2 separate regions of the Homo sapiens genome follow, and region 1 is linked to region 2. The links come from fine-mapping of genetic effects on gene expression. A gene starts in region 2. The other region holds a variant in brackets. All regions are shown on one strand. Distances are between the middles of the regions. Region 1 has its middle 59 kb from the start of TEX15. Region 2 holds the start of PURG (purine rich element binding protein G).

The links. PIP is the estimated chance that this variant, and not a neighbour inherited with it, causes the effect.
Region 1: its variant is the best candidate, but not a certain one, in a credible set for the expression of PURG in caudate (GTEx, PIP 0.61).

What each region holds. Positions count from the first base shown.
Region 1 is chr8:30,969,606-30,974,984 of GRCh38, forward strand. No RefSeq gene overlaps it. Among named protein-coding and RNA genes, the nearest start is that of TEX15, 59 kb to the left of the region's middle. The variant G/A (reference allele first, on the strand shown) is at 2,568.
Region 2 is chr8:31,030,369-31,035,747 of GRCh38, forward strand. PURG (purine rich element binding protein G) reads right to left here and starts at 2,988. Exons shown (of 2, transcript NM_001323311.2): 1 at 2,710-2,988; 2 at 482-2,420. The coding sequence starts at 2,414. The coding sequence ends at 1,371. WRN (WRN RecQ like helicase) reads left to right here and starts at 3,442. Exons shown (of 35, transcript NM_000553.6): 1 at 3,442-3,605. RefSeq lists silencers at 2,970-3,019, 3,180-3,439, 4,410-4,479 and enhancers at 3,195-3,716, 4,550-4,599.

The sequences.
Region 1 (5,379 bases), 61 kb before region 2:
AATTTTAAAATTAGCCAGGCATGGTGATGCACCTGTAGTCCTAGGTACTTGGGAGGCTGAGGCAAGAGGATTGTTTGAGCTCAGGAATTTCAGGCTGCAGTGAGCTCTGATCACACCTCTGCACTCCAGACTGGGTGACAGAGTGAGACCCTGTGTCAGAAAAAAGAGAAAAGAGTGTTCAGTATTGGGAGCGGAGGGCTTTCTGTGGCTAGCCATCGCCTGGAACAATGTTTTTTTTGTGGTCAAACTGTCATAACAGTCCTTTGAGGGGGATGTTGCCAGAGCAAGTAATTTCTCAATCAGTAATTTGGTCTTTTTCACTCCTGAGTAAGTATTCCATTCAGCATATTATACCATTGCATAGCAAACTACAATTTGTCTATCCATTGATAAATTCTCTTGGGAAAAAACTCAATATACAGCCAATAAATTTGTTAAACTAGGCCAGGTGCAGTGGCTCACACCTGTAATCCCAGCACTTTGGGAGGCTGGGGGAGGGGTGTGGATCACTTGAGGCCAGGAGTTCGAGACCAGCCTGGCCAACATGGTGAAACCCTGTGTCTACTAAAAACACAAAAAAATTAGCCAGGCGTGGTGGTAGGCACCTGTAGTCCCAGCTACTCGGGAGGCCGAGGCAGGAGAATCGCTTGAACCCAGGAGGCAGAGATTGCAGCAAGCCCAGATTGCACCACTGCACTCCAGCCTGGGCAACAGAGCAGGATTCCATCTCAAACAAAACAAAACAAAACAAAACAAAACAAAACAAAACAAAACAAAACAAAACAAAACTGTTTTTGTCTTTTTGATGGAACGTAGAGAGAGCTACATCTAACTGAACAAGTGAAAAAAGTAAAGATTCCCTTAGGCAGAAAGCTAAAATAATGTGATAATATCTAAACGTTGGTTAATTTTTTTTTCGGTTAGAGAATAAATAGGTACAATTTTTTTTTTACTAGTCTCCGAGTCTTTCAGCATTTTAAAAATTTTTCTATAATTTATTTTAAAGAATCCAAATTAGGCCCAGTCCAAAAAAAGGGAGTCATCTCCTATTTTAGCAAGCGCTTAGCATAGCTACTAATTGAACCTCTTACATTTGTCTTTAATAAATCATCACTTCACCGAAGCAAGTAGAAGAATGGTAATTTGCAAGATTGTGTTGTCTTACTTACAAGTACTCAAGTAATTTCTCTCTCAGAATTCTCCTTGATCAAATGCCTACATTTTACATATCTTTCTTTAAAACATAATAAATCGTTCAGCATTATTATTTTCATGTAACAAATACTTATGTGGTAGGTGTCAGGGGCACAGTAGTGAAAAATCAACAAGCTGATCCTAAAAACAAGTTGCAAATATTGTAAATGAACAGTTTCCAAGTGAGAAATTCATCAAGCTGAGATTTTGCTTTTGGTGAAAAGATGCAGAGAAGTGAGGAATAAAGACATAAGGTGAGATTTCCCAAGGAAGGGCATTCACTCTTACTTCCACAAGCTTGAAAATGCAGGAAGTTCTGTGGTCAAGAAGCTCATGTCTGGGATTAAAAGCATCATTCTTCAGAATGGCTGCTATTCCCTCACCCTAACGTGGAACATTGTTTATAACATACAACACACAAAGAATGGCATTCTTTAAATTTAAAAACAAGATGGGGCCGGGCGTGGTGGCTTATGCCTGTAATCTCAACACTTTGGGAGGCCAAGGTGGGCGGCTCACCTGAGGCCAGGAGCTCAAGACCACTCTGGCCAACATAGCGAAACCCTATCTCTACTAAAAGTATAAAAATTGGCCAGGCATGGTGGTGCACACCTGTAATCCCAGCTACTCAGGAGGCTGAGGCAGGAGAATCGCTTTAACCAGGGAGGTGGAGGTTGCAGTGAGCCGAGATTGTGCCACTGCACTCCAGCCTGGCCGACAGAGTGAGACTCTACAACAACAACAACAACAACAACAACAACAACAACAACAACATGGAAGATGTAGCCTGGATTTTGTGCAAGTAGGACATACAGGTCATACAGGTCAAATATGACATACAAGTCAAAGACCACAACAAATTTGCTTCATCTTCACAGAAAAAGCAAAGTTTGTTTGAAATTATCCTATCAAGGTACAAATGGGCAGAAATTAAAGACAGAAGCAATTTTTAATGAATAAATTTCCTTCACTCCAACAACTTTCTGCCATATAGTGATGAGAATGAGAAAGGAAACCTCAAATGCAAATGCTAAACTTTTACGCTGACCTGTTTTTACCGCTATCTAATCAGTGGGCCAATAATGTCCAGAACAGGCAGGCATTGCCTGAGACACAAGAACCATCCCTTGCTGTTTAAGTGACTATTCATGCTGGCAGCAATTTTCACAAAGAGAGAAAACACTGGGGGGAAGGAAAGAAAAGTTCATTTTCATTGCTATTCCTCTGTAATGCCAAAAATAGTCTGCCGAACAGTAGCAGGGGAAAAAAAAACTAACAGACAACTGGTGTTTGCCCGTTTCTAAAAAATATTTGTTAATGAATTGACTACAATGAATAATTGTTTTTGCATCGGCTGGAACAACTTAAGATTT[G/A]CCAATGAACAGACTGCTAGCCCAGTGATGGACAGTGGTGCTGCTGGTGGTAACAGAAGCTATTATTCTTTAAATGTTTGCTATGTGCCAGCCATTATTCCACATCTAATCCCACAATAAGCTAATGAAGTGAGCATTATATTGTGTTCAATGTATTAGGTTGATGTAAAAGTAATTGTGGTTTTGCCATTAAAAGTAATGCAGGCTGGGCATGGTTGCTCATGCCTGTAAATCCCAGTACTTTGGGATGCCAAGGCGGGTGAATCACCTGAGGTCAGGAGTTCAAGACCAGCCTGGCCAACGTGGTGAGAAACCCCGTCTCTACTAAAATTACAAAAAGTAGCCAGGTGTAGTGGCGGGCACCTGTAATCCCAGCTACTTGAGAGGCTGAGCTACTCAGGAGAATTGCTTGAACCTGGGAGGTGGAGGGTACAGTGAACCGAGATGGTGCCATTGCACTCCAGCCTGGGCGACAAGAATGAAACTCCATCTCAAAAAAAAAAAAAAAAAAAAGAGTAATGCAAAACCATGATTACTTCTGCACCAATCCAATACAATGAGGAAATGAGACTAGGGTAAATTATTTGTCCAAGATCGCACAGCTAATATGCAGGAAGAGCTGGAATTTGAACCCAGGTTGGTGAACGTCAAAGCCATGTATAAGACATGCTGTGGAAGAGCTCATGCTTGCTAAAACTTGAGTTCCCAAAATGCCTAGGAAAACATGTGACTTGATATTAAAAACCTAATAATAATAGACCCCACATGCCTTAGATTTAAATAACTCCTTTTTTTTCCCCTGAATACTGTATTTCGTTAGAGCAGTTGAATTCACTCAGTTATGTACTGTACAGTCCAGCAAAGCCAACAATTATTTGGTTGTCACTGTAGGTTTCTGAAGAAAAAGTTGCTTAGGTGTTCTGTGCCTGGTTACTTGTATTATCTTTCTCTAGGTAAGATGTGTCTGATGCTAAGACAGTAGTTCACGGATAGAGAGAGGGAAGGCAACTGAAAGTCAAAGGAGGGTAAAAACCAGGAAACTTGAAGGGACCTATGAAAAACTGAGAAGAGTTAGGAGCAAACTGTTGAAAGATACCACTGCGTGGTGCCCCAAGAGCAGCTGACAATTGGCATGTTATTTTTCATGTTCCTTTTACACAATGGAAAACCCATGACTCTGCTTTATGTATGAGGCAACTGAATAGTTTTACTCTAAAATGAGTTTCCAGACCTCTGGTATTTGATTAAAGAAAAGCAATCTCTTCATTTTTAAAGCACCCAATTTTTCAGTCCTTCCGATTTTTTTCTTTGGGAATACATTAAAACTATTAACTGTCCATGTGTTAAGTAGAAATTATAGGAGGTTATTGCTTTAGACTAAGCTCCTGCGCTAAGCCCCAACAGATCAAATTAAAAATCAAAATGGTGTCACTCATGCCCAAGGTTCCATATCACCAAACCAAATTAAATTGTTATCTGACCTTTTGAGAAATCAGGAGAGAGATGTAACAGCATAATTTTCCAGACAGGTCAGTTTTAATCAGGATGACGATAAAGTTCCCTCTGCTTTAATTCTCACAACAAAAGGTAAACTGAGGTAACTGGATGTTAACCAGTTATTTCTCTAATGTTCTGTTTTCTTGTTCCTGCCTTACAAGGAAAGTAACTTTGAAATGACCAATATGCTTTTTGTTCTTTCTTTCTGTTTTCTTCAGCCCCGTCTATAAAACCAAACTTGTCTGCTTGGATCATTAGAACATTTATTCTATTTAATTGAATGAAGTGTTGTTGGATTCTAGAATTGCAAATAAGCCAATTAAGATTTTTTTTTTTTTTTTACAGAATCTTGCTCTGTTTCCCAGGCTGGAGTGCAGTAGCACAATCACGGCTCACTGCAGCCTTCACCTCCTGGGCTCAAGTGATCCTCCCACCTCAGCCTCCTGAGTAGCTGGGACTACAGGCACACACTACCACACCTGGCTAATTTTTGTATTTTTTGTAGAGATAGGGTTTTGCCATGTTGCCCAGACTAGTTTTGAACTCCTAGGCTCAAGCAGTCTGCCTGCCTCAGCCTCCCAAAGTGCTGGGATTTCAGAAGCAGCTGCCAATTAAGATATTCAAGTGAGGCCGGGTGCAGTGGCTCACGCCTGTAATTCCAGCACTTTGGGAAGCTGAAGCGGGCGGATCACGAGGTCAGGAGATCGAGACCATGCTGGCAAACACGGTGAAACCCTATCTGTACTAAAAATACAAAAAAATTAGCTGGGCATGGTGGTGGGCACCTGTAGTCCCAGCTACTTGGGAGGCTGAGGCAGGAGAATGACATGAACCTGGGAGGTGGAGCTTGCAGTGAGCCAAGATGGTGCCACTGCACTCCAGCTTGGGCAACAGAGCAAGACTCCATCTCAAAAAAAAAAAAAAGATATTCAAGTGAAATTTTTGTAGTTTTGTCTTTTGACACATGATATCTATGAATTTGCCAAAATGGAGAAATATATCACCAAATTTAAAGTATAAAATATGTCCTACTTATATACATAAAGTGTAAAATATGTTCTACTTAATTTAGCCTTTCTCTTTAATTATCATTTTCTGAACGTAAATTATATGGCTGTCTATCAAAATGTGCAAATAAAAAATTCCTACTTTGACACTATCAAAATAAGATATTTAAGTACATAACTAAATTACAGTTTATCTTCAATATACCTTATTCATCACCTCACACAGAATTTATCTGATGTTTGGATATTTAAAAAGCCTTCTTTACAAACTATTGATTCATGCTACATGGATGAGCTTTAATCCCATT
Region 2 (5,379 bases):
AAAATATAGCTGAATAGATGTAATTTCAGTCAATTAATACAGGATGGGTTGGTACACATATAACACTATATCCACTTGTTTAAAAAATTGCTTAGGTGTTGAAAAATTGCTGTGGCACTTCCTGGAAAGTAATTTTTAATACAGGTAAATGGGTGAGTCTTGTGTAAAGTCAGAAAGAGCACCTTGGAAAATGCCTGAATTTTCCTTTCAAATATATTTATAACCAATCTTCAAATAATATTTTTCTCAGACTGGAAATTTGTATTCTAAATTATTTTTAGAAAAAAAAAATCCCCACCCCCTCCAGAATTAAAACACCTGTAAAATTCAGGATTATATTGGAAGTGTTGACATGGTTTTAAGGGTAGCAATTGCAAAAGTGCTACTAAAATATATTATTACAGGTATATTTTTATATCAGTTAATTGGTACACCAACCCTTCTGAAAGAGTGTTAAAGAAGAAGCATAAAGTATAACACCTTGAGTCCATGATATATTTTGGGGAAGAAACCTCTTGCAATCTTTAAATTAGCATGAAAAGCTACACCACCAAGATTTCCATAGCAAAGCCATTGGATGAAGCCTCCCACTCAATGTGACATAAAAGTAATTCCTGAAACTTTGGAAAGTCAATAAAAATATATGGAACATTAAGTAGAGGTAAAGAAGGGATTGTAACTAAACTTAGAATAACGAATTAAAACTCTCCCATGGCTTTGATATGGCAACTATAAAATGTAGGGTTACCACAAAGTTTGAAATTATAGAATACTATAGTATTCTTAAGAAATATTATGACATTATATTTTTAAGGTTTAATTAGGTAATAAGATTTGATCCTTTGATGGTATATTCAGTTATTCAACGGACAATATACGTCTACTTGTACTTTTATAAGTAAATATTTATATATACCGGAGGTCAATTTCTGTTTCTGTGGTAACTGCCCTACAGGTAAGCTTAGCAGCTTTTAATGAAGTAGAATTGAAATACTTTTGGGGGAAAGTCACACTTCTATTTAAGTATATGTATCTTTTTTCGGGATTATGTCATAGTGCAATGTAAATCTTAGTTATGGTATTTAGAATGTCAGAATGTCACATTTTGTGCTGATTTGCATACTTCAATAGTCTGGAGCAGTTGAAGCAGCTAAACTATTTAGCTCTGGGAAGGTTGGAATTCCCGTAAGAATTATAGTGATCTATGTGTAACATAACATGAGAATCAGACTTCCTGAAGTATCAACTACTAGAGGTATTACTAATAACAACGGGCCAAAAAAGAGGAAAAACTTCTTCAAAGGATAATGGATCAGTACTTTTAGCCAATTTGTGATTTTAAATTTTGCCTGATGGAGTTCAATTTCACTCTAGTCGAGGCATTCTTGTTCTTCACCACTGGCCTTTCTGCCATCCATTCTCTTTTCTTTATGGCTGTTGCAAATTTTCCTCATCTCTTCTTCATACTTGATAAAATTCTCCCCAAACCTTGTCCAAGCTTTGAATGGAACAGTAATAGTATTACGGTAAGGTGGTCTCACCTCACTTACCTTCAGGAAAATTCCATATTTATTAGAGCCCACATCAAAGTAGAACCTTTTATTGTCCACTCTGAAAGAAGTCCCCTCTGGGAGTTCAAGCGGGTCATCGTCTCCACCTCTTCGTTCTTCTATGTCTCCTTCGCCATAGTCTTCAATCAGCTGAACCAAGGCATCACGAAACTCAATCATTCCTTGTGCTGGGAGGACAATAGTCTGTTCTTGGCCCAAACTGTGGCCAAAATAACCTATCATGCCAGTCCCCCGCATCATGGTTTGTCTAATCCGTAGGAAGCGACCCCGCTGATTTTCCTTTAGGTCTAGGTAATATTTCCTATTGTCCCTCTCGATATAGTCTGTTTTCAGGACACTGTGAGGATGCTCTTCGGACCCCACCGAGACTGGTGGGGAGGGTGCCGAGTGCTTCTGCCTCCTTCTGGAGCCTTGCTCTTTGCTGTGGCCATGCTCTTGCCGGTGGCCTTTCAGGCCCAGGTGGGCATAGTGCTCGATGAAGTCCCCTAGACAGTCCTTCAGCTCCGCTGCCACAGACAGGGAGAGGGTCAGTTTACTCTTTCTGATGTTGTCCTGCCGGCCTCTCCCTATCCAGACTTCGGCTATCTTTAGGAAGCGGCCCCGGGAGCTTTGCTTCACGTCTAGGTAAAACCTCTTTTTCTGGATGTCCACTCGTTTGGAGGCCAGCTCCTGGATTTCGGCTGCGCCCCCGGCCTGATTAGGGGTGGCTGAGGCCGCGTAGTGGGGGTAGTGGGAGTGCTGGGCCTGGGGATAGAGTCTACTCTTGCTTAGGCCAGAGCCCCCTACATTCTTGCCTCCGCGGCCGCGGCCGCCGCCGCCTCCCCTTCGCCTGGCTCTTTCCATCTTCAGCTGCAAGTAACAAACAGACACACGGGATGGGGTGGGGGAGGGGTGTTGAGAACAATCGCAGACGCCCCTCGGCCTGACCGCCCCGCCGCCGCCCGCGACCCCCACGCCGGGCCCGGCTCCCCCGGCGCCGCAGCGCGGGGCTCCAGCCACTGCCGGCCGGTTGGCGGCCGCCGCTCCGGCTCTGCCCGCGCTCCCCGCATCCCTCCGCCGCCCCCGGGGCCGCTCCCGCACGCCGCCGCCGCCCGTCCCGCGCTCCGCGGCCCCAGGTCTCCAGCCGGCGGGCACTCACATCATCTCTGCCATCACCGCCGCCGCCGATGCCCTTCACGACCACCGCCGCCGCCACCGCCAGCTCTCGGCCCCTCTGCTGCAGCCGCCGCAGCCGCCGCCCCCCGCCTCCTCCCCCGCCGCCGCCGCTCGCACTGCCCCCCGCCGGAGCAGCCGGGCAGGGGCATCGCCCGCGGCGCCCACCGCAGCCGCCCCTCCTGCGGCCGCTGCGGGGGCCGCCGCCTGACTTCGGACACCGGCCCCGCACCCGCCAGGAGGGGAGGGAAGGGGAGGCGGGGAGAGCGACGGCGGGGGGCGGGCGGTGGACCCCGCCTCCCCCGGCACAGCCTGCTGAGGGGAAGAGGGGGTCTCCGCTCTTCCTCAGTGCACTCTCTGACTGAAGCCCGGCGCGTGGGGTGCAGCGGGAGTGCGAGGGGACTGGACAGGTGGGAAGATGGGAATGAGGACCGGGCGGCGGGAATGTTCTCACTTCTCCGGATTCCACCGGGATGCAGGACTCTAGCTGCCCAGCCGCACCTGCGAAGAGACTACACTTCCCGAGGTGCTCAGCGGCAGCGAGGGCCTCCACGCATGCGCACCGCGGCGCGCTGGGCGGGGCTGGATGGGCTGTGGTGGGAGGGTTGCAGCGCCGCGAGAAAGGCGAGCCGGGCCGGGGGCGGGGAAAGGGGTGGGGCAGGAACGGGGGCGGGGACGGCGCTGGAGGGGCGGGTCGGGTAGGTCTCCCGGAGCTGATGTGTACTGTGTGCGCCGGGGAGGCGCCGGCTTGTACTCGGCAGCGCGGGAATAAAGTTTGCTGATTTGGTGTCTAGCCTGGATGCCTGGGTTGCAGGCCCTGCTTGTGGTGGCGCTCCACAGTCATCCGGCTGAAGAAGACCTGTTGGACTGGATCTTCTCGGGGTAAAGTGTCTTCCTATTCCCGTTTTCCCAGCTCCGTGCCCCGGGGTATCTATAGTGCTAGGCTTCTGAGACACGTGGAGGCGCTTAGGCCCGCGGAGCAGGCCCCTGGGCTGTGTTTGGGAGATTCTGGAAAAACAGACTTTCTCCCTTTTCCTTTCCCCTCTGGAGCAGCTGGGAAAGGCGTCTCTCGGAGCTTCCGCCATTCAGAAAGTGTTTCCCCGCCCCTGACGGCCCCAGCTTGATGTTTACCTTGCGCGCTTAGTTAGGATTGCTCTTTCTAGTACGGCCTTTATTATGGCAGAAATTGAGCCACTACAGGTCTGCACAGCAAAGTCGAGGGAAATAACCTGCTGTCTATGATTTAGCAAGTGATGATGGATATTTTTGAGTTCAAATCACTCAGTCTTTAATGGATTTTCTTTTCTTTTTTTCCTAGTTGAATCTCAGTTGTTCTCAGGCTAGGTTTGATATGAAAAATACTACTCCCTATTGAAGAGGGTAATATAATTCTTAGGATGCTAATACAGGAGTCTGTAAGTCGGAGTACTTCAGGCTTTTTATGGTTCGGTACATTTCTTTTTAGGGGTGGGATATTGGGATAAGTAGGACAGTTCAGATCTTGATGTCATTGAATAGTGGTGTCTACCTAAAAGGAAGAGGCTGGGGCACAAAATTATAATTTAAAGTGTTTACTTCAGCCAAAATGAGGACAGCTGCCCAGGACTCATTTCCCAGTTGCCTTGGGGAGTGCTCCTTCAGCCTTGGTTACAAGCAGGTTTTTAAAGGCGAAGGGGAAGAGTGGGCTGAGACAAAGTTGGTCAGGAATTGTTATTGGTTTACAGAGATACCATTGCTTAGTGATTGGCTGTACACTGTAACTCATAGGGTATGAGTTATCGTGTCCAGCATATGGCATTTTATGGCTTCTTGGTTCCAGTCTAGAGCCCATATAGCAGGTGGGCTTTAAGAGATAATTATCCAGCTCAGACCGGGAGTGAGACGGGACTGTTTTTTCATTCTAATGCCTCTCTGGGCCTGATAATTTAAAGGGGCTTGCATTCTTCAGCTAAAATTTTATTTTCTTTTATTTTTTTTCCCCCACAGTGGTCTCCCTTTATTAATCCAACAAATGTTTATTAAGGACTGCTCTAGGCACTAGAGATACCAACAATGAACAAAACAGACAAACATCTCTCTCCTTTTGGAGCTTACATTTTAGTGGAAAGAGACAGGCAAAAAGTAAAATTATAGGATGACAGAAGGTGAAAATAGAGATTAAAAAGGAAAGGGGGATGAAGAGTGTGTGTGTGTGTTGTGGGTGGGGGGCTGTAGGGAGCTGCAGTTTTACAATAAGTGGTCAGGGACGTCCTCGCTGAGAAGGGAATTTTTGAGTCCAGAGCTCAAGGAAGTGAGAGAACTTACCTTGACGTTCTCTGGAGGAGAAGAAAGTACAAAGGCCCTGGGGGAACCTGCCTCTTTATGTTCAGAGAGCAACTTAAGAGGCCTAGTGAGCTGGAGCAGAGCGGAGAGGAGGTCAGAGGTCAGGCCAGAAAGGGAAAGGGGCCAGAATGTGTAGGACTTTATGGGCTATATTGAAAATTGGGGCTTTCATTCTGAGGGAGATGGGAAGCTGTTGGAGAGTTGTTAGGGAAACGTGATCTGAATTATGTTTCTAAAAAATTGGAGTAAGATATCATAAAATTTGCCATCTTAGTCTTTTTTGTATCTGGCCAATTCCACTCAGAATTCTTTTTTAAACAGCTTTATTGAGATA